2 separate regions of the Homo sapiens genome follow, and region 2 is linked to region 1. Evidence: fine-mapped expression QTL. A gene starts in region 1. The other region holds a variant in brackets. All regions are shown on one strand. Distances are between the middles of the regions.

Region 1 (16,905 bases):
TTCATGTCCCTTGCCCACTTTTTAATGGGGTTGCTTGTTTTTGTCTTATAAATTTGTTTAAGTTCCTTGTAGATGCTGGATATTAGACCTTTGTCAGATGCACAGATTGCAAAAATTTTCTCCCATTCTGTCGGTTGTCTGTTTACTCTGTTTATAGTTTCTTTTGCTGTGTAGAAGCTCTTTAGTTTAATTAGATCCTATTTGTCAACTTTTGCTTCTGTTGCAATTGCTTTTGGCATCTTCATCATGAAATCTTTGCCTGTGCCTATGTCCTGAATGGTATTGCCTGGGTTCTCTTCTTGAGTTAAAAACCATTTTTATTGATAAAACAGCTATTTTATACTCTATTCTCTCCTTGTTTTATGGATGTATATCTCCTGTTATTTCTGTGATATTATGTATATATTTATACTTCCTTCTGTTTACCACATATTTTTGTTTCCCCTGAGTTCTTGCACTGTTTTTTTTTTTTTCTTTGCCTGTCAATGTAAAAGTTTTCTTAATGTCTGGTGGTCAGTGATTGTCCCTTCATACTTAAGAGTAATGCATTAAAAATGTTGATTGTAAGCATGGAGATGCTCATTAGCAAGATGTTTCTTTTGGGGGAATTTCTAATTGTCTCTGTAGTTATTATTACTATTATGACCACCATCATCATTATTATTATTTGCTCTCACTGTGATTATCTGCTAATCAAAAAAATTTTTTTTCTAACTTCCAAACTCAATCTGGAAACAAATACAATCCTATCTTGAGCTCAGTGAATTCTAGCACAGGCCATTTCTGCTGGATATATATTACACATGATGCAGATAATTTTGTAAAGGAGCTCTCTTGTATCTTGTTTAAATGGAAAAATTATATTTTTCATGTTGCTCCCTCCTGATTGCCTGCTAAAATGATGGAATGGAGGTTTGGGGGAATTTCTAACTGTCTAGGTAACTATATCTTTAGGTATTTTATTCTGGGCAGATCAGTTCCTTTCATGTTCCTGGGTGGGAGGCACAAGTCTATCTCCAAGTTTTTTCACACTCAGTGCAGGGAGGGAGCAGCATACAGGTACCCCTCTTTTCAATACAGTACTGAAGTGCTTAGCTGAACCTGGTGTCCCTGTGTTCTGAGTTTCCCAAATTAGCCTTCTTTTTTCTTTATACTGAGCCTCTGGAAGTCTTCTAGGGAGAGGAAGGGGAAGTTACTGAGTAGACTGAGTGGACAGGGGTAAAGATTTGGAAGTCTACTTTCTTTGTAGATTTCAACCAGTTCTATTTTGAGCTCCATGTGCACCCCCACATCTAGAGTTTTCTGGTACCCTTTGTTACTAGAATTTCTGTAGCTCTGTAGTATGGATTGGTCTGTATCTGGTTTTCCCTCATAGTTGGCTCTTTTTAACGTTTATTTATTTACTTATTTATAAAATTATTCTCATGTTTCTTACATAATTTGCCACTTATCCAATGGCCATTTTTTCCATTAAAAATATGTATTATCTAATCTCTGATTCTCTGTCCTTATGGTTTTATGTCTTCTTTAACCTCTGTTCCATAATTTTAGCAGGCAATCTAGGGAAGCAATATAAAAATATAATTTTTCCATTTAAACAAGATGCAAGAGATCTCCTTTACAAAATTGTCTGCATTGTGTGTAACATATATCCAGCAGAAATGGCCTGTGTTAGAATTCACTGAGCTCAAGATAGGATTGTATTTGTTTCCAGATTGAGTTTAGAAAGTTAGAAAGTTACTTTTGTTAATTTAGCAGGTAATCCCAGTAAGAGCAAATAATAATGATGGTGATAATAATAATAATAGCCATGCCAGGAGTTCATAGCATAATGATGTGAAGTGGGGTGGGGTGGGTTTTTATCTGTCTTTCATCAAAGTCAGCTTTTGTACTCTCCCCTAGCACGCAGAAAGAAAGAGGGCATTCCTTATGTGTGTGTACCATTCTTAAAAGCAATGTTATATATTCTTGATATACCCATTTCACAAGGTCTTATTATCATCGAGGACTTCAGGCACTTGAAAAAAGAACATTGAAGGCAGAAAAAAAACTCAACTATTTCCTTTATGTCATCAAAAACATAAACATATTCAAATTCCAACCCAGATAGATTTTTACCCAACTTTAGATATATTAATATTTAAATATTTTAGGTATTGGGCTTGGTGAATATTTATTTCTTTTCAGATGTCTGTGATCATGATCTGCATGTTTCTGGTGGCATGGTCCCCTTATTCCATCGTGTGCTTATGGGCTTCTTTTGGTGACCCAAAGAAGATTCCTCCCCCCATGGCCATCATAGCTCCACTGTTTGCAAAATCTTCTACATTCTATAACCCCTGCATTTATGTGGTTGCTAATAAAAAGTAAGTAATGTCTAAAATGCTTGCAGTACAAAATAAAACTGATATAAAAAGAATGTTAAGACTTCTTGGGAGAGAAGTGACAGAAACCCACTTCAATCTAGCATAAAGGTCATTTGCCTCATGTGACTGGAGCAGCATCTAGGACCTTAAATGCTTAGAGCTCCAGATTTGTTACAGACTCTTCCCACACAGTGGCAGAGATGATTGTGGGCAACCCCAGACCCAAGTTCTACCAGCTAAGCATCCCCAAATGCCAATTGCATCTCAGATGGCTCTCTGGCAGAAAAGAGCCTGGGATGTCAGTGGTCAGCTTAGTTCAAATGGTTACCCCCACCCCAAATACATGGAATAGTGGTTTCCAAAGAAAAGAGGGATTCTATAACTGGAAAATGGACAAGGCAACATTGGGCTCACTTGGTGGGTAGCACAGATGTATATTTACAAGAAATAAGACATATCATTCAAATGCAAGGGAAAAGTTTAGTCCCAACATAAAAGGCATCTGGATACTAGAGAATTCTTACCTCCTCTCTTTTTTGGGTTTCTTAGCAAAATGTTCCTTTTCTGCCTCCTCAGTGAAGTTTAGACGGAGTCTCTCTCTGTCACCCAGGCTGGAGTGCAGTGGTGTGATCTCAGCTCACTGCAACCTCTGCCTCCAGGTTCAAGCAATTCCCTGCCTCAGCCTCCCGAGTAGCTGGGATTACAGGTGCCCGCCACCACACCCGGCTAATTTTTGTATTTTTAGTAGAGATGGGGTTTCACCATCTTGGCCAGGCTCGTCTTGAACTCCTGACCTCGTGATCCGCCCGCCTCGGCCTCCCAAAGCGCTGGGATTACAGGCGTGAGCCACCGCGTCCAGCCGAGGTCAGGTAATTTTATCCTGGAATGGCAATGTTTGGAAAAGCAGCTTTAGCTACAGGTATGTGAAGAAACATAAAATTTTACAGACCAAACAGACCACATAAGAAGAATGAAGAACACATTTTAAATTCAGAATCTGCTGGTAGTTCTTTTGGAAAATTCTTGCTAGGAAGAACAGATGGATGAAATACACATTGTTAGTTCAAATAAACAACTCATGGCACTTGACATTAGTAGCATCCTTTTAAATACATATAATTATTTACTTTTAGTAGATGTCTTCAATCTGTAGAATCAACAGTGCAAAATTGACCTTTAACTGTACCATATACCTTATATATTTATAAAGTTTCTCAACAGGAAATCTATAGAATCAATAGTGCAAAATGGGCTTTAACTGTACCATATACTTTATATATTTATAAAGGTTCTCAACAGGACATGTTAAAGTTGGAGGCAGAAATTTATCCAGAGATGTAAATTGGCAGTAGTGGCATCTTAGCCATATTTGAAAATGCTTTAGAAGTTCCAAATCATTATGGGTTAATGCCAGATTTTCCTTTTTTTATCGTAGGTTTCGGAGGGCAATGCTTGCCATGTTCAAATGTCAGACTCACCAAACAATGCCTGTGACAAGTATTTTACCCATGGATGTATCTCAAAACCCATTGGCTTCTGGAAGAATCTGAAATAAGATAAAAGGACACACTATCAAAACACTTTAGTTTTTTGACAATGCTTTTCTTTTAAATATGAGCCCATTTAGATCAAGTGCAGACATGGATCATTGTCCTATGAGAGTGTAAGCTCCTCAAGCACAGCTCGTGCTTCTGTTTGTGCACTCTGGCTGCTGTAGTGTATGCTTCTCTGTGTCCTGATATATCAACTTATTGCTCATCTCCTTTGATGAATTAGGCATCAGAGGTTAAGGTCCCCTTTCTTTCTCCCTATTATGGCATGCATTACACTGTACTGATGACCTTTAACTTGCCTGGCTCCTCCATTAGAATAAAAGCAGTCACTAATTTAATGTTAGAATAAATGAATAATTCTAGATAATTACTGAAATGAGTTGTTGGATGTTCCCAGTTAGAATAGAAAGCATTTTTTGAATTTCAACATTTTAACATTTAAATCAATTAACTTATGTTATTAAACAAAAATAAATGAACATTAAACATGATTGTTTCTAAATAAAATGTTAAGTCAATGCATATATATTATATAGCATTATGACCCCTGTGCATATTTTGATGTTTTCTGCAATTTTGAGTACCATTTTTCTGCATATATATTCCATATATTTGCCAACAGAGTTAACTTCAATCAGAGTGGAGATTTTTATATGTTTGTTCTTTGATGTATCCTTAGCACATATACCCAATTCTGTCTGGCATGTAGTAGGCACTCAATAAATATTTTTTCAATGTCAAATGAATTTGTAGACTTCACATATTTGTCATTCTAAATGACTGTTAAGCATAATACAATATACCATTGTTTAAATAGTAGACATTTAAATTGCTTTCCAGTTTTTAGTTTCATGGATATACCACTGAAAATATTTCAGTGCAAATATATTTTTTCTTTTGGAGAAGTTATTCTATTTGAGTGTTTCTTTTCAGACTAGAAATACTGGATACAAATACAAAAACACTATTATTTTTGCTAGCTTGCTTTATGGAAAGATTGAATTAGTTTTCACTGATACTGGCAGTGTCTAAGTGAGCTTTTCACTGCATATTCCTGCTCATAGTCCTGTATATATTTAAATTATGAGTTATATACTCTAACTTAAAGTCATTTTATTTCACATTTCTTTAACTGCTAGTGAGGCTGTGTATCTTTGCATATTGTATTTTTTAATCTCTATTTTTTCTTCCTATAAATTGTCTCTTTAGCACCTTTGGCTACATATTAAGTAAAATACAGGTATTAGTTTTATGTGTACAGTCTTCTACGTATATGGAAAGGTAAACTGTCATAGTAATCTACCTTATCTCCTAACTCTCTGACTTTCCCACTGCAATCAATTCATACAATACAACCTCAATCAATACAATTTCATAGCTAATCTTTTAAAAATAAAGTTCCAATGCCCAAATTCTTTGGCTAAAAACCTTCACTCACCCACCAAGTAAGTATAAACCCCTCAGCTGGATTTTCAAGGCCCTCTTTAACATACTTCAAGAGGGACTTTTCAGCTTTTTGTCTCTCTTCATGGCCAAATTAAAATGTCTAGTGTTCCGAGAGAGCTCTGAATGCTTTGTGTCACTAGGTCTTCGCTCATCCTGTCTATCATAGCCGAGCCTTTTTACAGGGAAAGCATAGTGAAATCTGCACCCAAAGTCCCAGAGCCATTAAAAGGCCAGGACAACTTCTGTAATAATGTCTAGAAAAATGGACTCAGAGTTCCAATTTGCAAGGCTGTGAACTCATTTCCAGCGATAAGCAAGAAGCAACTTTGCCTCAAATATAAAGGACTTCAACAGTGTACAGTAATTATATTTCAATGCTATATTATTTATTTTTTAATTTGCTTATATGATAAAACTAGGAAGACCTGGCTTTGGTTACATAGTTCCCTCTGACCTCTTAGTTTGCTAATTTCTGATGTTTTTATCTTTAAACAGCGTTTCTATGCTCAATTTGGCACGTCTTGCTTCCATGTAAGTCATAACATCCATGAAATTAATGATTCAAAAACCCTTGGTCACTTGGCGATCAGAGCTTTACCCATCCAATTTCTTTTTCCTCTTGTGCTCAAAAACTCGAGGCCACCACCTCTCACTGCATCTCCAGCACTGGGAAACCTTAGGGTTGTTTTTAAATCCCTTCTTCATCCTTACGTCTAATCAATCATTTCTCTCTCCTGGGTGTTTCCTGAAGCTGCATTATCCTAACGATTACTAGCACAGCAGTCAAGGCTGTAGCCTAATGGCTGCTCACCTGGACTATAACCACAGACATCCACCTGAAGCCTCCTCCTTTCTTCTTGCTTGCTCTATCTAGAAGCTTCCTCCTTTCTTCTTGCTTGCTCTGTCTAAACCTTTTCTCCACACAGCCGCCAGAGAATTCTTCCTGAAAGGATAAGCTGATATGCCACTCCCAAGCCTAACTTTTATTGCTCCCATTGCCTGTAGGCTGAGAGTAAGCTCTCCATAGGGAATCTAAGGGTTTCCTTGATAACTTCATCCCCGCTTATCTCTCCAGCTTTATCTTTTTTAACTTCCTGCCTCAAAATCTTATGCCTGAGCAACAAGAAGTGCTTGAAATTCTCTGAGGACAATACACTGTTTCTCACTTCCCTCCCTTTGTTCCCACTATTCCCTTTGCTTGCAATGCAACTTTCTGGATTTTCCCATAATACATCGTCATGCACCCTGTAAAAGGCAGCCAGGCACCACCCACCCTAGGAAGTCTTGCTTGACTAACACAGGCTGGGTTTGATGCTCTTTTCTCGTGCTTCTTTAGTAGTCTGTTCCTCCCTTTATCGTGTGAGTTCCTTATGTGTAATAACTGTCTTATTTATCTTTGTACCCCTCAATGCTCAGCAGAGAATAAGTACTCAGTAAATATTTGATGAACAAACGAGTTGTGCAGAATCTGAAAACCTGCAGTATTTTATTTTAATTGAGCACAGTTTTTCAGACTGTATGGTTTTTATATACATTCTATTGGTTTTAAATAACATTTTCTATAATATGCTTATTTTTATAGAATTAATTTTCTTTTAAAAAGGTTTTTAGTTAAAGAGGATGGTTAGAAGCAGCCACTAAGAAGGTTAAATGACGTATATTTATTACTTAAATCCTTGATTGTCCCTGTGGATTCTCCACTCTATGAGTGTGGAGATACTTTTAAATTTAATTACATTTAATTTTTATTTTCTGACAGAGCCTAATATAGCTGAAAGAATTAGAGTTGATCTTCAAATATGGCTTTGATGCTGATAACTTGGGAAACTATTGAACAGAGATAGTTGCCTGCATTAAAAATAAATGTGCTGGGATAAACCTTCCACACACTGAGATGACCTGGAAGAGTCTCAGAACACGTTCTTATTGGAGAACTTAGTCCTGCCACATCAGTAGTGGATTGAAGCATTTTCCCTATAAAATCTGTGTAACTGACTTGTTTTACTTTACTTTTAGAGATAGCCAGTATGTGGCAACATCGATAACTCTTTTCTAAATCATTTTTATGTCATGTGCTTCTATTTTTAAAACTAAATTTTGTAAAACTGAATTAGTAACACATTCTGGCAAAAACCAAATGCAAAACATTTTATAATGTTGTAACATGTAAATAATCTACAGAATTTTCTTGCATCTGCCAAGACTGAATTATTTTACATTAAGTATATTTTTAAGGTGTAGTGGCAAGTACATCCAGAAGAAAGGGATTTAATAGGCATTTTCTTGCAAATCTAGTTACGGGTAACTATTGAAATTGCTTGTCATGTGTTTGATTTTCATTTTCCTTAGAATGTGTTACTTTGCTGAAACTGTATTCAAAGGCTGGATCAATTGATCTCCTGCAAGATACACTTGAAGGTTAAGTAACTACAGATCTCAGCTAATCCCGTGTAATCTGCTGTTACTAAATGGCTGTTTGTATTCCAGGCATACCAGGTTCTGAATGCTTAGGATTCGGTTTTTACCTTTTGTTTAAATAACCTCTAAAAGGAGCAATGCATCTCTTTGCATGTCTGTGCATTGTCCTTAGCTTTTTGGAAGGAGTGGGCTGTTTGTGTCCTTCACAGTGCACCTGTGATTATCACGGCAGAAATGACGGCTCAGGATCAAGGTATGCTCCTCTGCTTGTTACTAAGTGTTCTCATTATTTTGACAAAAAGGACCCAAACAAGAAAGCCTACTTTTGAAAGCAAATGTTTGGGGATCAGAAATCACAGAAGAGAATGTTTAGTGTCCATAAGCTTTAACTTAATTGTTTTAACACTGGTCACCTACTCCTTCACTGTTTTCGTTTTGAGCAGTTTAACTCTCAAAGGCCTCTCAAGGTATTGGAAATTTCTAAACACATTCTATGTTCCAAAATTTTTATTATGCTCATGTTCACAAATTGTTGCTTGAGATCAAACGATTTAAAGGTGCATGGCCAGCTAAGCCCTTGATTATAGAAAGGCTAAGAGGGCAGGCTGAACAGGAGCTGCGTGACATGCTCAGATCCTTTGCTTTCATGGCTCTCCACTTCCTTTGAGAACTATTCATGCCAATTGAATGGCAGAAAGAAAGATCTCAAGAGTGAAGTTAGAGAGGTTAATAGTTAGAATTTTTCATTTTAAGCTGATGGAATTTACAAAATAAAGAAGATTGAAAAAGATACTGTCTGTTTCAGACACTGCAGGATCTCACAGAAGTTATTCAATCTCTAGGTTGCTTTAGCATCTACTTGTGTAGTGAGAAGAGTTATTTACTTATATTGTGCATGAGGCCTTTTAGATATGTTAAATGCAAAACAGAACTCTTGCTAGCTAAACACAGTAGAACTTGAATTTTTTTTTTGAGAGGTTATTTAATAACAAAATCAGGTTATTTGTGACTTGGTTGAAGTAAACGGTGTCTCAGATAAAATAATTTGTTAAAAGAGTTGCCCAATTTATGTCTTATAACTTTAAACAAATAAATAATAATAAATAAGACATATTTGTGAAAAGCTTATCTTGTTATTGTATAAACTTTAGTTAACCAATTCTTGGTATTTTTTGAGATATTCACTGGGTGGTTAAAGACAATGAAGAGAATGTAGCAAGTTAAAGACCTACTTGTCCAGGGACGTGTAGCAGTGAAGGATCAGGCCAGGGTACTTTTGAGAAACTATCACAGAAATGTTTCCTTCTTTGTGGTGACCCCATTATTGATGGATTTTATAAAAATTATAGAATATTAGGCCTGGCAAGAAATAATCTAGTTCAACCCCTTGTCAGTTTATAAGTGAAGAAACTAAACTGTATGGAGACCAAATGACTTGTCCTAGATCATATAATTGTGTTGATGTAGTAACTAAGTTCATAAAGATGCTAGATCTTTTAGCGTACAAACTAGACTTTCTTCTATGATAGCATGCTGAGATACTTATTTTATTTATTTATTTATTTTGAGACAGAGTCTCACTTTGTCAGCCAGGCTGGAGTGCAGTGGCACAATCTCGGCTCACTGCAACCTCCATCTCCCGGGCTCAAGCAATTCTCCTGCCTCAGCCTCCCAAGGAGCTGGGATTACAGGCGTGTGCCACCATGCCCAGCTAGTTTTTGTATTTTTAGTAGAGATGGGGTTTCATCATGTTGGCCAGGCTGGTCTCAAACTCCTGACCTCAGGTAATCCACGCACCTCGGCCTCCCAAAGTGCTGGGATTACAGGCGTGAGCCACCGCACCCGGCCAATACTTTCTTAATGAGTAGAAACTGCTACCATTCTGGTATAAAGTAGTACTGAAATCTGTGATATAAAATAGAGATGAAAAGTAAGAGATATCCCTAGAGGATTTCAAAGATTCCATGAGGTCTTTTCCTGAAGTTATAGAAAGGACATAACACTACCACTACATTGCAGCTTTATGCTGCTTACGTGTGTATACATTATGAGCTGGTTTTTCAAATCCACTGATTTAATGTCATATGTTTCACTAAAGGGTTATTTTATTGTAATTATTTACTAAATTTATAGTGTGCTATAATTTAGATGATACTTTGCAAAACTTCTTATTGTTCATTTTTCATAATTCAGATGAGTATCTCATAGGAGATAAGTCTTTTTCCAGGCTAAAATGAATCTAAATTCTCAGATTCCTCATACTTTAAATTTACACATGGGACAGTGTTGTCTTCCTTCCTTCCTTCCTTCCTTCCTTCCTTCCTTCCTTCCTTCCTTCCTTCCTTCCTTCCTTCCTTCCTTTCTTTCTTTCTTTCTTTCTTTCTTTCTTTCTTTCTTTCTTTCTTTCTTTCTTTCTTTCTTTTCTATTTTGAGATGGAGTCTCGCTCTGTCACCCAGGCTGGAGTGCAGTGGCGTGATCTTGGCTGACTGCAACCTCTGCCTCCCAGGTTCAAGCGATTCTCCCACCTCCGCCTCCTGAGTAGGTAGGATTACAGGTACCTACCACCGCGCCTGGCTAATTTTTGTATTTTTAGTGGAGTCGGGGTTTCGTCATGTTGGCCAGGCTGGTCTCAAACATCTGACCTCAGGTGATCTGCCCACCTTGACCTCCCAAAGTGCTGGGATTACAGCCATGAGCCACATTGCCCAGCTGGGACATTGCCCAGTGTTGTTTTTCTATGCCTGTTTTATATGTGCCAACAAACAAGATCAAAATGTGACTTGCTCAAGGTCAACTCCTAATTTCTGGTTTATTCCTTAGGCAGAAAGCAATGTGCAAGTCACGTTATTAAAACAGAGTTCAACTTTAAACATGTACTGTGAACACTTTTTTTTTTCACCTAAATAAATTATTCTCTGAACAAGGATTGATTTATTATTTTAACAGGGGGTTCTTTTAAAATGGGCCATTTCCTAAAGAGGTGCACTTTAAGTTGGACAGAAGTGGTTTTGAAAGGTGGCTGTGAAACCCACTAGCTGGGTGACCTTGGAAAGTTACTGAATGTTGGTGGGCCTCAGTTACTTTCCATGTAAAACCGAGGTTGTTGACAGTAGCAGCAAATACCTACTGAGTACCTATTCTGTGCCAGGAAGTTGTAGAGTTTTACATCCATTGTAATTAATCATCCATAACAGTGCCATATGGGAAAATGAGGTTGAGACACTGGTGAAGTGGTTTTCCATGGCCACAGAGGAGGTGGCAAACCTTAGACCTTGGTTAGATTTGAACCAAGGCCCTCCTCGGCCTCCCAAAGTGCTGGGATTACAGGCGTGAGCCACTGCCCAGCTGAAAATTGATACATTTTTCAAATGAGAAGTATTTTTTTCAAATGGGTGTTGGAAAGTGAGTTTCCTCACATTGTTCATGTTGTGACACTAGGTTGGTGCTATGTAATGACATGGATATGAACGAGCTGCCTACGAACCTCCCCGTGGACACTGTGAAGCTTCGCATAGAGAAGACTGTCATCCGCAGAATCTCTGCGGAGGCCTTCTATTACCTGGTGGAGCTCCAGTATCTCTGGGTGACTTACAATTCCGTGGCCAGCATTGACCCCAGCAGCTTTTACAACCTGAAGCAACTGCATGAGTTGCGCTTGGATGGGAATTCTCTGGCTGCTTTCCCTTGGGCATCTCTGCTGGACATGCCCCTTCTGAGGACCCTGGACTTGCACAATAACAAAATAACCAGTGTGCCAAATGAGGCGCTCAGGTATCTGAAGAACCTTGCCTACTTGGATTTATCAAGCAACAGACTCACCACATTGCCACCAGATTTCCTGGAGAGCTGGACTCATTTAGTTTCAACACCTTCTGGAGTCCTGGACCTTTCCCCAAGCAGGATTATTCTTGGTAAGCTCGCAAGCCTCTGGGCTTTTCATCTATAGTTACTTTGCTATGCATAGCTTTTTTTGTCCAGTCTTTTAAAATTTGTTGGATTTGGCTTTTTACTCTGTAATTGCACTTTTACTGGAATAGTACCTTATTAGTTAACCTAGGTCAAGTTACCCTTTCTCCTGTGTAAGGTGTAAGAGCTGTGTGTGTGTGCATGCATGTGTGTACATACATGTGTGGAAAAGTGGAGAAGAACTTGCATCATAAATGGAGAGAGGACCATTTCTCTTAAAGAGCATCCAGCTGAGAGACAGAATCAACCAACTGCATAGACTCTTGTGAGCACAGCATTGCTCCATACTCTGGTACAAAGTTCTGCTCAGTTTGCTTTTCAACTCTTCATTAGGTTCTTCAGGAGCAGGAGAGGGGCACTGGCATCTTTATGCGATAGCAGTGGCTTCATTAGTTAGGAAGAATAGCTTCTAAATTTCCTTAATCTAAAAAGAAATGGTGGAAACACCAGTTATTTTACTGGCCCCAAATGGTTCTCCTAACTGATTTGGTCTCTTAGTTTAGCTGTGACTAGTTTTGGAATTTTGAACTTGGTCTTGTTTAGGTTCTATGTGTATTTCTCTGGTTCTTTTTATTATTATTATTATTATACTTTATGTGCAGAACTTGTAGGTTTGTTACATAGGTATAAACATGCCATGGTGGCTTGCTGCACCCATCAACTTGTCATCTACATTAGGTATTTCTCCTAATGCTATCCCTCCCCTAGACCCCTACCCCACAACAGGCCCCAGTGTGTGATGTTCCCCTCCCTGTGTCCATGTGTTCTCATTTTTCAACTCCCACTTATGAGTGAGAACATGCAGTGTTTGGTTTTCTGTTTCTGTGTTAGTTTGCTGAGAATGATGGTTTCCACTTTCATTCATGTCCCTGCAAAGGACATGAACTCATGCTTTTTATGGCTGCATAGTATTCCATGGTGTGTACATGGCACATTTTCTTTATGCAGTCTATCACTGATGGGCATTTGGTTCGAAGTCTTTGCTATTGTGAATAGTGCTGCAATAAACATACATGTGCATGTGTCTTTATACTAGAATGATTTATAATCCTTTGGGTATATACCCAGTAATGAGATTGCTGGGTCAAATGGTATTTCTGGTTCTAGGTCCTTGAGGAATTGCCACACTGTCTTCCACAATGATTGAACTAATTTATACTCCCACCAACAGTGTAAAAACGTTCCTATTTCTCCACATCCTCTCCAGCGTCTGTTGTTTCCTGACTTTTTAATGATCGCCATTCTAACTGGCATGAGATTACATCTCATTGTGGTTTTGATTTGCATTTCTCTAATAACCAGTGATGATGAGCTTTTTTTTCATATGTTTGTTGGTTGCATAAATGTCTTCTTTTGAGAAGTGTCTGTTCATATCCTCTGCCCACTTTTTGATGGAGTTGTTTGTTTTTCTTTTTTCTTGTAAATTTGTTTAAGTTCCTTGTAGATTCTGGATATTATCCCTTTGTCAGGTGGATAGATTGCAAACATTTTCTCCCATTCTGTAGGTTGTCTGTTCATCACTTTGATGATAGTTTCTTTTGCTGTGCAGAAGTTCTTTAGTTTAATTAGATCCCATTTGTCAATTTTGGCTTTTGTTGCCATTGCTTTTTGGTGTTTTAGTCATGAAGTCTTTACCCATGCCTATGTCCTGAATGGTATTGCCTAGGTTTTCTTCTAGGGTTTTTTATGATTTTAGGTCTTACATTTAAGTCTTTAATCCATCTTGAGTTAATAAGGTGTAAGGAAAGGGTGCAGTTTCAGTTTTCTGCATATGGCTAGCCAGTTTTCCCAACCCCATTTATTAAATAGAGAATCCTTTCCCCATTGCTTGTTTTGTCAGGTTTGTCAAAGATCAGATGGTTGTAAATGTGTGGTGTTATTTCTGAGACCTCTGTTCTGTTCCATTTGTCTATATATCTGTTTTGGTATCAGTACTGTGCTGTTTTGGTTACTGTAGCCTTGTAGTATATTTTGAAGTCAGGTAGCGTGATGCCTCCAGCTTTGTTTTTTGCTTAGGACTGTCTTGGCTATATGGGCTCTTTTTTGGTCCCATATGAAATTTAAAGTAGTAGTTTTTCCTAATTCTGTGAAGAAAGTCAATGGTAGCTTGATGGGGTTAGCATTGAATCTATAAATTACTTTGGGCAGTATGGCCATTTTCACAATATTGATTCTTCCTATCCATGAGCATGGAATGTTTTTCCATTTGTTTATATCTTCTTTTATTTCCTTGAGCAGTGGTTTTTAGTTCTCCTTAAAGAGATCCTTCACATCCCTTGTTAATTGTATTCCTAGGTATTTTATTCTCTTTTTACCAATTGTGAATGGGAATTCACTCATGATTTGGCTCTGTTTGTCTATTATTGGTGTATAGAAATGCTTGTGATTTTAGCACATTGATTTTGTATCCTGAGACTTTGCTGAAGTTGCTTTTCAGCTTTGGCTAAGATGATGGGGTTTTCTAAATATACAATCATGTCATCTGCAAACAGAGACAATTTGACTTCCTCTCTTCCTATTTGAATACCCTTTATTTCTTTTGCCTGATTGCCCTGGCCAGAGCTTCCAATACTGTGTTGAATAGGAGTGGTGAGAGAGGACATCCTTGTCTTGTGCCGGTTTTCAGAGGGAATGCTTCCAGCTTTTGCCCATTCAGTATGATATTGGCTGTGGGTTTGTCGTAAATAGCTCATATTATTTTGAGATACATTCCATCAATACCTAGTTTATTGAGAGTTTTTAGCATGAAAGGGTGTTGAATTTTATAGAAGGCCTTTTCTGCGACTATTGAGATAATCATGTGCTTTTTGTCACTGGTTCTGTTTATGTGATGGATTACATTTATTGATTTGCATATGTTGAACAAGCGTTGCATCCCAGGGATGAAGCCAACTTGATTGTGGTGGATAAGCTTTTTGATGTGCTGCTGGATTCAGTTTTCCAGTATTTTATTGAGGATTTTCATGTCAATGTTCATCAGGGATATTGGCCTGAAATTTTCTTTTTTTGTGGTGTCTCTGCCAGGTTTTGGTAGCAGGATGATGCTGGCCTCATAAAATGAATTCCTGTTTTTCTTTTTTTCTTTCTTTGTACCTCTGGTACCTCTGGTAGAATTCAGCTGTGAATCCATCTGGTCCTGGGCTGTTTTTGGTTGGTAGGCTATTTAATTACTGCCTCAATTTCAGAACTTGTTATTTGTCTATTCAGGGATTCAACTTCTTCCTGGTTTAGTATTGGGAGGGTGTATGTGTCCAGGAATTTATCCATTTCTTCTAGATTTTCTAGTTTATTTGTGTAGAGGTGTTTATAGTATTCTCTGATGGTAGTTTGTATTTCTTTGGGATCAGTGGTTATATCCCTTTATCATTTTTTATTGAGTCTATTTGATTCTTCTCTCTTTTCTTCTTTATTAGTCTTGCTAGCGGTCTATCAATTTTGTTGATCCTTTCAAAAAACCAGCTCCTGGATTCACTGATATTTTGAAGGGTTTTTTCTGTCTCTATCTCCTTCAGTTCTGCTCTGATCTTAGTAATTTCTTGCCTTCTGCTAGCTTTTGAATGTGTTTGCTCTTGCTTCTCTAGTTCTTTTAATTGTGATGTTAGGGTGTCAATTTTAGATCTTTCCTGCTTTCTCTTGTGGGCATGTAGTGCTATAAATTTCGCTCTACACACTGCTTTAAATGTGTCCCAGAGATTCTGGTATGTTCTGTCTTTGTTCTCATTGGTTTCAAAGAACATCTTTATTTCTGCCTTCATTTTGTTATGTACCCTGTAGTCATTAAGGAGCAGGTTGTCCAGTTTCCATGTAGTTGAGTGGTTTTGAGTGAGTTTCTTAATCCTGAGTTCTAGTTTGATTGCACTGTAGTCTGAGAGACAGTTTGTATGCCTTCACCCTAAAGAGGCCTAGAAGAGCTGTGGCAAGATGAGGGCGTTTATAGCCCTATCTTATCCATATGAACAGGCACCCCTCATGCATCCATTTATAGGCTCTCCACAAGGGTCGCATTCCATTCCCAGAATTATGAACATCTGCTTTTCTGAGATAGGAATCTTGGTGATGTGAAACCTCCCTGACTGCACATCCATTCATAGGCTCTCTGCAGGGGGAAGCACATTACACACTGTTGGCTCATTCTGGCAGTCCAACCTGGCATTGTCTTTACACAATCCTGCATGCAATTTTGTACTTACAATTATCAGAAGCATTTCATCTTTTATTCCATAGCAATAGTTTCAGGGGGTCTCCCTACATCTCCTCATTTTCTCTGATTTAAATGAACCATAGCAATCATAGCTTGGCGCTGATCATGATTGGATTGAATAATATTTTTTCCAATTTTACACATGAACAATAAACCAATAGCACAAATTATACACAGAACAAAATTACCGATAGTGGATCCTCCCAAAGATTTTACTCATTGAATGGGGTTGAGATTAGATAACCCCTCAGAGATACCATCTAAAACTTCATCACTGGGTAAAGAAGTTAAGTGTGCTTGAGAGGCCTCAAAAATCTTTTCTTTTAGCTTGCTTATGTCTAAACTCAAATTATCTTCACTTCCTTGTAAATGGCGTTTTACTGATTCCCAATTGTGAACAGACTCATTATATTGGAACGGAGCTATACAAAAATCAGAAATATTCCAATCACATTGCATTTGTAATCCGTGTTCTAAACTCTTAATTCTATCTCCCATCCATATAATAGTTTGTCTTAGATCATTAATTTGATTGGCCAATTTTTGATCAATACCTGACTGAGAATTCCACATTCAAATAGAATTTTTTTGCCATTTATCCGCAAAATGAGCAGTTTGAATAGATTGATGTAATGCAACTCCAGCAGTAGCAGCAGTCACCGTAACAGCAATCAAGCCCATTATTACTGCAATTAATGTAAAAATAAATCGTTTACTCCTTTTAAGAATTTTCTTTAGAATATTATTAATAACATCGATAGAAGAGGAAGATTTCCAAGGCCTATGTAAGGCTACAGGGAGCCAACTACCTTCTCTGGCTCTGACTATTAAAATACTATGATATTGATTAAAGGATGAGTCAATACAAGTATACAAGTAACAATTAACACAGGTAATTATGTTGGTTTTTGAACTAATATGCATCTTTCCTACTAATAACATATATGGTGGTTT
Region 2 (12,284 bases), 18 kb after region 1:
TGTTAATTTAGTTCAAAAAACACTTATCAATCTCTGTAGATGTGCCCCACCCTTTTTTGGTTTGAGGAAACAAATCCACATAGGTAAGGTTTATGCCTTGCTGGGTGCTCTAATCCTCACCCTCTTTCTATAGCTGGCAGAGTCAAGTTTCAAATTTACAGTTAATCTCCAAAGACATCACTCTTTACTTTTTAAAACCTTGTTTTTAATGGAGACATTAAGGTATACTTTGTATAGGTGGAATGCAGGATTGTAAGTCTACAGTTTGTTAAATTCTGATAAATGTATACCCTTACATAACTTACACCATCATCAAGATACAGAATATTTCCATGACCTCAGAAAGTTCTGTGTTTCTTTCCAGTCAATCTTGCCTCACCTATTTGAATTTTCATCACTATAGGTTAATTGTGCCTGCTCTAGAATGTTATGTAAATGGAATCATATAAGATGAACCTTTGTGCCAGGCTTCTTTCACTCAGCATCATGTTTTTGAAAATCATCCATGCTGTCGCATGTATTGGTAGTTCATTATTGCAAAATTGTATTCAATTGTATGAATGAAGCAATTGTTCATCCTTTCTCCTGATGTTGGACACATGGGTGTTTCGAGTTTGGGGCCATAATAAATTAAGCTGCAATTAACATTCTTGTACAAAGCTTTTTGTGGCACATGTTTTCATTTCATTATCTTGGATAAATTCCTAGAATTGAAATTGCTGGATTATAGAATGGCTATATGGCTGGGGGCCATGGCTCACTCCTGTAATCCCAACACTTTGGGAGGCGAAGGCAGGCAGATCACTTTTAGTCAGGAGTTTGAGACCAGCCTGGTCAATGTGGCGAAACCCTGCCTCTACTAAAAAATACAAAAATTAGCCAGGTGTGGTGGTGCATGCCTATAGTCCCAGCTACTCAGGTGAGGTAGGAGAAACCTGGGAGGCAGATGTTGCAGTGAATTGAGATCACGTCACTGCACTACATCCTGGGTGGAAAAAAAAAAAAAGAGAAAAAGAATGGCTATATGTATAACTTTTAAGGAAACTTCCTGTTTTCCAAAGAGACTGTATAACATTATACATTCCCACTAGCACTGCATGACAGTCTGGTTGCTCCATATCCTCACCAACACTTAATGTTGTTGGTCTTTTTCATTTCAGCTATTCTGGGGGGTGGGTGGGTCAGGAAGCGGTATCACAATGTGTTTTTAATTTCCATTTCCCTGATTATTAATGGTGTTGGCCAGATTTTCATTTGCTTATGGGTCACTGTATATCTTCCTTTATGAACTATCTTTTGCTTAATTTTTAAGGGCTATTTGTCTTTTCTTTATTGAATATAAGTCTTTTGTCTGTTATATGCACTGTGAATATTTTCTCCAAGGCTGACTTGCCTATTTATTTTTTCCTGGTGTCTTTAGTAAAAAAAGGTTTACATTTTGATGACATTTGATTCATTAGTTTTTTCCTTTTACAGTTAGTGCTTTCTGTGTATCATCTAAAACATGTTTGCCTACCTCAAAATCACAGATATGATATTTTCTTATAGTTTTAGCCTTTATACTCAATTTTTAGCTGTATATTCTTAGCTCTTAGGCTTATAGCTATTATCCATCTCAAAATAGTTTTGGAGTATTGTGTAAAGTAGGGGTTGAGGTTCATATGCTTGCAAACACGTGTCCACTTGTTCCAGCACCATTCATTAAAAAGACGTTCCTTTCCCTACTGAATTGTTAAACATGGTTGTCTCCACAAAGCTGAGTAGGCATAGTCTTTGCCTTCAAGGGCTTATAGTCCTCAGAATAACTTTTGTACAAAAATTTATTGCTCACTTTTCACACAAAAATAGCGCATTTAGTCCAACTATTCTGATGCATATAAATACTATTCTTTTAGAAAGGATAAAGTTCACTTGTCCCATCCAAGAATAGTTATATAAAGTAAACTAATTAATGCAAATTAGTGTAATTGTAGTTGATGTATTGCCTTGAAGGAATGCAGTGCAAGTAACAGTTTAACTTGAGAGAGTTCTCTTTCCTTTGTCCTCAGAAGAAAAAAACACTTAAATATATTCAGTTCTTGGATCACTATTTTTATTCAGGTTTTAAAAATTGTACCTTTGACCTTAGAAGTTTCAAGCTGGAGTAAATAGACATTTTATTTTTGAAGGATTTAAAAATATTTACATAACTTTTATATATAACCAGTGAAATTAATTTTTTAAAGAATTTTCTTTCACCATTAATACATTTTTTAATAATTTCAAAGCATGAAATAAATTGTTAACATTGTATAGCTCTTAAATCTTTCCCTGTGTAAACATTTATACTCCAGATATTGCTGCTTTAACATTTTTAAATTTTATTTTATTTTGAAAGAGTATCTCACTTTGTCACCCAGGCTGGAGTGCAGTGGCACAAACCATGACTCCTGGGCTCAGTTGATCCCCTCAACTCAGCCTCCTGGTAGCTGGGACAACAGGCAAGTGCCGCCACCATACCTGGCTAATTTTTGTATTTTTGTATTTTTTGTAGAGACAGGATCTTGCCATGTTGCACAGGCTGGCCTTGAACTCCTGACCTCAAGCAATCTTCCCACCTCAGCCTCACAAAGTGTTGGGATTACAGGTGTGAGCCATTGTGCCTGGACATTTTTTTATTTGTAAATAATAGCGCTTATGACTGTCACTATGACTCTAAATGTTTTTAGATGGCAAAGAGATGAGTTATGATAGAAAGGGTATTAGATTAGGATGCTAAAAAAATCTGGGATGTAGGATTCTAAGCCATTTACAAAGTCAAGATAGTAATATCTTTGTGCTTTGGCTTCCTTTGGTGTAAAACTGGAAGAATAATACCAGATTCCAGAGGTGGTAGAAGGCATAACATGGCGGTTAAGAGCTTTAACCACTGTGGTGGGTGGTTAAAACCTTTAACCAGCATGGTGGTTTAAGATCAGGATACTGAAGTTCAAATCCTGGCTGTCCAATTGTGTGACCCTGGGCAGATTCCTTAAGCTTCCTGAACCTTGGTTTTCTCATCTTTAAAATGGGGATGATAATAGTACTACCTATCCCATGCTTTTGTGAGGATTGAGTCAGTCCATCCTTCAGACGCTTAGTGCCGTTGTTCTTTGATCTCCTGAATCTCTGCATGTCTTGTGAGCAGAGGCAGACATTGATTACCTTTTATTCTGCACTATCTTTTCAAGGATTACCTTTTATTCTGCACTATCTTTTCAAGAGAACAGCTTTGGAGGTAGAAATATATCTCCTTCCAGAGCAAAGGGTAAGCATGCTTACTACCCAGTATAATAAAGATGTCTCCCTTCAGTGCTGTGAGCAATGAGCTCCTTCAACCCTGAGCAGGAGTCTTGTGTCTTCTACCAACATCCATAAAACGATGGCAGGCAAACTTGCCCATATCTGAGAAGTTTCCCAGAATGTGGACCTCTCAGTGCTAAAAGCAAGAAAGTCCTGGGCAAACTGAAATGAGTTGCTGGCAAACTGGAATAGGTTGGTCACCCTAAAGTAGGGTCAAATCTCAGAGCCTCTGCAGTTTTGGAGAAGCACGGTCTTTGCCACATAGGAAGCAATCAAAACTTGTAACTTGCATTGGTAGTATTACATAAAGAAAAAAATCTGGCATAAGTTGAAGTGTTTTCAAACTATGAAATAGTCTATACATATTATATAACTGAATAAATTTGATGTGCTGGCAGATTTAGAAATTAATCTTAAAATTAAATAATAAAATAGCTATGATGAGCATAGCTTTTATATATAAATTTTGACACAAATTTATAGATATAAAATATAAGTAACCTTTTATTTCAATATAAATGTTTTAGTATCATTCTATTTATGAATTCTTACTATATTAAGGTGGGTGTTTACATGTTCCTTTCTAAATCTTTTGATTGTTTTTATCTAACTTAAAATATCCCCTTTCCTCCTCTTAGGCACTATGATAACATCCCTTTGCCCTAGAGGACACTTGCCAGTTTGCATCCTGTGCTCTTCTCTTTGCTGGTTTTCTCTTTCACTCAGGGAGCAGACATGTGATTGGATCCTCACTTTGAGATTTAATTATTTGTGAGAGGCAAGCCATATATTTATTCATTGATTTCTTGCAAACTACAGCTCACAATGCTGACAATACCAACTGATAGCAACATTTTTAATCTTTTATAACTTTTTGTAGAGGTTATTGGCACATTATACACAAACTGACCTGATTAATTTGTTAAACTGTGTGGGTCACAGTCTAACAATCTAATTCCAAATTTAGTTCTTTATAATAACATTTACATGTATATAAGGCAAAACTGGTTAATGTGAAAAATACATGTACAAAGTAAAATAAACTACTGAAAGGATTTCAGCCTTTGGAAGAGGTTCATGATTCCCCCTCCCCTCCATTTTAATAAGTAAAATCAGTTATATTGTTTATAAAAGGAGAATTGACTACTTTTAGTCTGTATTGTAGTCAAAGTTCATAAACTGGCTTCACTTTGTATGATATTCACATTTGAACTGTGTATCAATGTAGACATAGAAAAGTCACAAACTTGAAAGATTTAAAAATAGCACTATTAGGAGAGTCTAGATCCACAGATTATCTTTAGCACCTCAATCAATAGAGATAAAAATGTTACAAATTAGGCATTCTATCATATTCTTCTGCTTTTTACTGAGTGATGATGGATTTTAGTGTTAGTTTGTTGTTCCATCTTTGGTTTCTTTTAGTCTATGATCATTATTTTTATTTTATAGGCTGATAGAACGTTACGGCTGTAAAAAGCTCTAGCATTTATCTAGTCAACTCTCCCATTTTGCCGATGAGAAAACAGGCTCAGCAAGGTTGCATCACCCAGGTCACAGAATTAACTAATGGTTGAGCCTCATCAGGAACCCAGGCACAGTAAAGTTGGTGAGAATGTCATTTCCTATTACTTTTAAAATTTCTCTTTCATATATTTAAATCTGGCCTTCACATATCAGGTCAACTAATACGTACAATAATGACTGAATATCTAATGTGGTATCTGGTGGTGAAATGGGTTTTTGAATGTCTATGAACTGACTACATTATTATAGGTGTTTTGGTATCTATCAGATCATATCTCCACCATTACTTATGTACTTGTTTTGAATTCTTTCTTAGTAGACATACAGATTGTATTACATTTGGTTTCTTTTGTTAAGATCAAGAAAATATGGACTCTAGTATAGGGAATATGTTTTGTGTGAATGAAATTTGTTACTTATTCAGAGATTGAAATGACTATATTTTACAAAAGATTTTAAGTACTATGTTTAGCAAGAAAGGTTAAAGGTCACTATGAATAAACCATTGTTCAAAGTAATTTCCATGAATTATGTAATTAAAAATTCATGCAACTCTATGAAAGAACTACTGCATTCTATAGATGAGGCTGAGAGAGGTTGTTATTATAGATATCTCATGGGGGTGAAGCTTGACAGAACCAAGATTTCAGCCCAGACGTTAGGTTCCAGAGCCACACTTAATCATAGCAATATAAAATAAACTAGAAAGTCTGCTTACCATATAAAATTGGATGAAAGAGCCAACAGTTAAGAGAATAGAATTCAAATTAATATTGATTCAATAACTAGGTATAGATTAACAAGATTAAATATAAGAGGAAAAGTTTAAAGTTATTCACCCATGGAAGAAAAGCATACTTCTAAAACAGGAGATGAAAAAGTAAACTTTTACCAATCCTGGCAGAAAAATACGAGCCAGTCATGACTTGCTATTATAATTTTTAAAAAGTATAATAAAAATATAGAATTTATGAACTAACAGTTACATTTCCAGCATGGTTAGAATTTGTAAAATTGCAGTTTCGTCTTTTCTTCTCAATTTATAATCCACTCCATTAGTAAAAAGCTATAACCACAAATCTCTGTGACAAATTTTTTTCTATCTTGGGCTTTATATGAGGCTGTTATGGAACATCACCCCTAAGATCCTAGAGAGACTTTTGCCTGACAGAATGCTCTAAAGCTCCATCTTAGATCCTTCTGAGATTTTAGCACAAAATTTTACAGTCACGCCTGGATTCGATGTTTGCTCTGAAGTTCTATCTTAATTTGAGAATTTTGGAGAGGCCGAGAATAAGAAACAATTTTTTAATTGAACTCAGCAAATTTCGATTCCTTTATATTTAACAGTTCTTCTTTAACTGTTGCCTCTCCTTTATATTTTATTACCTAAAACACACCAGGGAGTAGTTTCAATACTCTTTGTGGAACTATCCTTAGGTAGACCACATTGCATTGAGTATGTTTTTGATTTTCCATGTGGACCACAGGTGACAGTGCTGCTAAACTTTTTGCTACTCAGTAGCAAGGATCCTCTTTCCTCTAGTTTCCAGCAACATTTTCCTCACTTTTCTTCAAGCCCTCACTGATAGCCTTCCTGAAGGCCCAAAGGCTTCTGCTAACAATTCTGAAAGTGAGACATCCTGAAGATGCTTGCAACTGGAAGCTGTCCGCTAACCGCATTGCTTGCAGCTGATTCTCTCTTGAAGGGAGTATTGAGCAAGTCACCTTCATGGTCACCATATATGACATTCATGCCAAGCCATGTTCTTGCTTCCACCAGTCTTTCTAGACTTCTCTACTGCCATTGCCAGCATCTCACTCTATATCTTTTGCCACACAAAGCTTGCATTACCTCAATATACCTTCAAATCACATAAAACCATAACCTATTCCAGGTTGAGTTAGGTGTCTCTGAGCACCCTATAATACTTACAATACTGTAAGTACTTTCATAGCACCTTTGAAAGATCTTTATTACTGTATTATGGCATTCTATGGTACCTGGATTAAAGTCTTGGCTCTGACACTAATTAGCTTTGTGACCTTGGCCAAGTTATTGGGTCCCTCTGAGGCCTCATCTTTAACATAGGGATAGATGAAGTCTGAGCTTCATCTTTAACATAGGAATAATAATATCATTTTCTCATAGGATTATTGAGATTACATGTGATAATACAGGTAAGTGCTTAGTACATAATCTAGCACAGAGTGAATGCTCAATAAGTATTAGCCATGATTATTAATGATCTGAACTAATGGACAGGATATGTTCACCGAGATTGCTGGATTGCAGAGCAAAACTGACATAAAGGTGACTCTGCTTCATCCCTCAAAGCACTTCTGTTTATAGGGAGACAGTGTAGATCCCTACTTTCTCAAGAGGCAGGATGTAAACTGAAGTCATCAGAATAATCTTTGTCAACCTTTCCCACCTTCTGTTTTAGGTCTACAGGACAATCCTTGGTTCTGTGACTGTCATATTTCCAAAATGATTGAGTTGTCAAAGGTCGTTGACCCTGCTATAGTGCTTCTGGATCCACTGATGACTTGCAGTGAACCTGAGCGCCTCACAGGAATTTTGTTTCAGCGGGCTGAATTGGAGCATTGTCTGAAACCATCAGTGATGACCTCAGCCACCAAAATCATGTCTGCTCTGGGCAGTAATGTTCTACTGCGGTGTGATGCCACTGGCTTCCCCACCCCACAGATCACATGGACCAGATCTGACAGCTCGCCAGTTAATTATACAGGTATTTTCTTAATTCAGCCCCATGATCAAAGGAGTTTACTAAGCTTTGAAGTTAACATCATGTGTTGTGTGATTTGAAATTAGCTAGTTAACACTAATAAAATATTTCAAGATTATTGGGTGCAAGGGATTTTAAAGGTACATTTTATTCATTAGTATTCTCCTCAGTTTATCTAACTACCTAGATAAAATTAAACAATCTAAACTCTTTTTCTTAGGTAGAATGAAACAATGCAGTGGATGGATCAATGGCAGACAAGGTCTTTGTCTTGCTTCATCAACTTGGATACAGCTTACTTCAAAATGTACAGCCTTTACAATTTTTTAAAAAGGGCCTTTTGCTGGTTGGGTGCGGTGGCTCACACCTGTAATCCCAGCACTTTGGGAGGCCGAGGTGGGTGGATCACCTGAGGTCAGGAGTTTGAGACCAGCCTGGCCAACATGGCAAAACTCCGTCTCTACTAAAAATACAAAAATCAGCTGGGCTTGGTAGTGTGCACCTGTAATCCCAGCTACTCAGGAGGCTGAGGCAGGAGAATTGCTTGAATTTGGGGGGTGGAGGTTGCAGTGAGTTAAGATCGCACCACTGCAGAGTAAGACTGTCT[T/TA]AAAAAAAAAAAAAAAAAAAAAAGGACGGGGGGCTTTTGTACAAGTCTCTCATTTTTGAATAATTATTTAAATAATAAATTACATGGACACCTTATTATGAATCAAAAAGTATAATTTTTAGAAATATTGATTATATAGACTTTTCAGATCCTAGTGTGACAATGTGTATGCTTTGTGCCCAATTTCAAGAGTGATATTCTGACAATTAAAGTGATATATTTTTAAAACTCTTCAATATTAAACTAAAATTCAGGTTGAAATAATGAAACCTGATGGAAATAAAGAAGTTAAGGCCTAATGTTCCTATATATAGGTAGTCAATGGTCCACAGTTTCAGCTAGTGAGTTAAGTTTTGGGCTACTGGGCTACTGTTCTGCGCATTATTATTATTCTTTGAAAAGCTTCTGAAATCAAGGAAGAATGAAAATATACCCAGATATCAGAGTTTAGGATAGCAAAATTCTGATTTTTTAAAAAACTATATGTTATTTGCAAACAAAAGAATCCTTGATTTGCCAGTTTACCTAAGTTAAATATAAAATAAATTATTCGGAATACAAATGATGACTCTGCCATGCCAGAAAATGATCTGCTGTACCTCTGGCTATAGAGATATATGCATTTTATTACCATGAAAACATATAATAAGAAATACTTAAGTAAGATCTTATGAAAAACATTCCATAGAATCACAGTGACTTAAAATTGAAAGGGACCTTTGAGATTACTTCGTCTCATCCTCTTATTTTATAAATGCAGAAACAGAAGCCTAAAGATATGAATTGACTTATCTACAACCAAACACTGTTTAGTGGGCAAAAGTTTCTAAAACCCAAGTGTCCTGATTCCCAGCCTTTTGTCTTTTAAAAATACTATTCCCTGTACAGACCTCACAACACCTGGCAGGTCCTAGACCTTGATGTAAGCAGTTTGCAGAACTATCACCCACTGTCAGAGACTTGCAGGGTGCCATTTCCCTCTTGGCTTCTGTGAGAGGATGCATGTAGAGTGGATAGTTGTTTCCTCCTCAGTTGGCATGGTGGCTTGAATTTTCTTTTTGTTCCTCACAGACTATACATTTGTTTTCTTCCAGTAATACAAGAATCTCCAGAGGAAGGAGTCAGATGGTCCATAATGAGCTTGACAGGCATTTCTTCCAAAGACGCTGGGGATTACAAATGTAAGGCCAAAAATCTGGCTGGGATGTCAGAAGCTGTGGTTACTGTGACAGTGCTTGGCATTACCACAACTCCAATACCACCAGACACTTCTGAAAGAACTGGAGATCATCCTGAGTGGGATGTCCAGCCGGGATCTGGAAGATCTACATCTGTATCTAGCGCATCATCATATCTTTGGTCCTCTTCCTTCTCCCCCACATCTTCTTTTTCTGCTTCTACTTTGTCTCCTCCCTCTACTGCTTCCTTCTCTTTATCTCCTTTCTCCTCCTCCACTGTTTCTTCAACCACAACTCTGAGCACAAGCATCTCAGCAAGTACCACCATGGCCAACAAGCGATCATTCCAGCTCCACCAAGGTGGGAAAAGAAATTTAAAGGTGGCAAAGAATGGAAGTAAGCTTCCTCCAGCCAGCACAAGTAAGAAAGAAGAGCTGGCATTGTTGGATCAAACAATGCTTACGGAGACAAATGCCGCAATAGAAAACCTCAGGGTGGTCAGTGAGACTAAAGAGAGTGTGACATTGACGTGGAATATGATCAACACCACACATAACTCTGCAGTGACTGTGTTGTATTCCAAGTATGGTGGGAAGGACCTGCTGCTGTTGAATGCAGACTCCAGCAAGAACCAAGTAACCATAGATGGCTTGGAACCCGGTGGGCAATACATGGCCTGTGTCTGTCCAAAAGGAGTGCCTCCCCAGAAAGACCAATGCATCACCTTTTCTACTGAAAGAGTTGAAGGAGATGATTCTCAATGGTCTCTCCTTCTCGTGGTGACCAGTACTGCCTGTGTTGTTATCTTACCATTGATTTGTTTCTTGTTGTACAAAGTTTGCAAACTGCAATGTAAATCAGAACCTTTTTGGGAAGATGATTTGGCAAAGGAGACTTATATCCAATTTGAGACCCTGTTTCCCAGGTCTCAAAGTGTAGGTGAGCTCTGGACACGAAGCCACAGGGATGACTCAGAGAAATTGCTGCTTTGTTCTAGGTCAAGTGTGGAATCTCAGGTGACTTTTAAAAGTGAAGGTTCCAGACCAGAGTATTATTGCTAAGGTTCTGCAGCTCAGGTGCATGTGAGCTACAAAACTAGCATCTAAGGGTATAATTGACCCTAGGTTTGGATGACTTTTGGACAGACTTTCACATTGTACATGAAAATCACAAATGGAATGCTTTTAAGTATGTTTAAAAAATACCATGAGACCTCTGAACTGAAAAGACAAATAATGTTGATTTTTTTTCTTGTGTGGAAAAGGTCTACAGAAATAATTTTTAGAGTGGTGCTTAATAAATTATTAATACTTTTTAGGGTAATGTTTTAGTTCTTAAAAATAAGTTCATGTGAAAGTAGCAAGTGAACTCTGTATTTAAAAATATAGTTTTTTGAGTCATGAGGAAACATTAGCAAAACCAGCTAAGCCTTGATGTTTATTCATGTTCGAAGTGCATTATAGCATTTGCTGTGGATGTTTTCTGACATTGCCTAATGGAGAGCGTGGGATCATAAAGGATTTTGTGTTCACTAAGGTTAAATCTAACTCACGGGAGAGAGAGGGCTCTGTCTCTTGGTACCATTATGCATTGTGATACTATAGAGTTGTGTTCATATTTCTTGTAAGAAAAATTTTTGCTTTTCTTTAGAAATATAGGTATTAGCAAAAGTAAGTATACAAAGAGGATTATGACAAATAGACCATTTCTTTAAAAATGGTAACTGTTGCATTTAAACACATCGACTGACAGATTATATGGATATTTAAAAATAACTTTAAATCAATCTTTTAATATTTTGCTGTTTGCTCTTATGTTCTCCCTTCTTTCTTCCTTCCTTGTCTTCCCTCCCTTTCCTTCCTTCATTCTTTCTTTCTTCTGCTCTGTCAGAAGATATACAAGTAGCCAAAGCATCACGAGCCAAGCTGTTTGTCTTTTGCCATATTGTCTTTTGATTCTCTTGATAAAGAGAAAGCTTTTGAAATTACTTACTGCCCTTTGAAAGTCTGTTTTACAACCCCAAAGGATATTTTAGGACTTTAAAAGGGAAGCTTCAGTGGATTCATTTGGTTAGATTCTTTTCCTAGGTTAAAAACATCGGGGAACTTAAATACATAGGAAAGGAGTTCACAAATAAAATTTAGTTTTTTTAGAAAGAGAATATTTTAATAACTGTAGTATACTACAAGAAACATCTCATGGCTTTAAGATTAACGATAGCGATAAGGCCCACTCAAGCATCTCACAGTGGTGATATTACATGTCACTTAGCAGGATGCAACCTGGCCTAGGGATTTCCAGAAGACAAGGCCACCTCAGCACAGATGCAACTTTCATAAATTTTAGAACAAAGCCTAACCTTACTAGATTAAACTTGCTCTATGAAAGAAACACTTGGTAATTGACCCAGACTGAATACATGTATAAGAAATGGGAAAGATCTCCCAAACTCTGAGAACGGTCCTCAAATAGAAGCTCTCCTAGTCAGTTGGTCATCTGACCTCTGACTATATCCGGCCTATGACACCAGCCAGCTCCTGCTTTCTGTCTTGTAAGAGCACTGCTGGAATAAACTACTTGAGCATTAGATGGTGTCTAAGACTCATCTTTGATGACAGGGATAAATCACCCTTGTGAAGCTGGCTAGCTGGGACCACCCAAAACCTCAGAACACAACTAGCAGTGAGGATGAAATTTGAGTAAGCCAATGAGTGATGACACCCATTTCTACAGGAGGATCAAGGGAGAGTGGCCAGGGCCTGGCTCTGATCGAGAGATTGGGTGAGGTCTGAGGAACACTCTACAGTGGGTCTGGCAGTTTTTGTTCTGTTTTCACATGTGTTGCTGCCTTCTATCTTTACTTTGTGCCTCTGTTTTGGAGGTCACCACCAGGTAAAATTT

Direction of the effects. Positions count from the first base shown, and alleles are read on the strand shown. Sizes are in standard deviations (SD) of each study's normalised expression.
In carriers of allele TA in region 2, the expression in prefrontal cortex of the gene that starts at base 7,826 in region 1 tends to be lower than with T alone (moderate effect, 0.44 SD a copy in BrainSeq).

Evidence for each region. PIP is the estimated chance that this variant, and not a neighbour inherited with it, causes the effect.
Region 2: its variant is the best candidate, but not a certain one, in a credible set for the expression of LRIT3 in prefrontal cortex (BrainSeq, PIP 0.60).

The regions. Positions count from the first base shown.
Region 1 is chr4:109,840,282-109,857,186 of GRCh38, forward strand. It overlaps LRIT3 (leucine rich repeat, Ig-like and transmembrane domains 3), which reads left to right and starts at 7,826. Exons shown (of 4, transcript NM_198506.5): 1 at 7,826-8,036; 2 at 11,223-11,695. The coding sequence starts at 7,921. It overlaps RRH (retinal pigment epithelium-derived rhodopsin homolog), which reads left to right. Exons shown (of 7, transcript NM_006583.5): 6 at 2,188-2,366; 7 at 3,802-4,661. The coding sequence ends at 3,916.
Region 2 is chr4:109,860,346-109,872,629 of GRCh38, forward strand. LRIT3 (leucine rich repeat, Ig-like and transmembrane domains 3) reads left to right here. Exons shown (of 4, transcript NM_198506.5): 3 at 7,296-7,601; 4 at 9,300-11,970. The coding sequence ends at 10,444. Among named protein-coding and RNA genes, the nearest start is that of LRIT3, 18 kb to the left of the region's middle. The variant T/TA (reference allele first, on the strand shown) is at 8,206.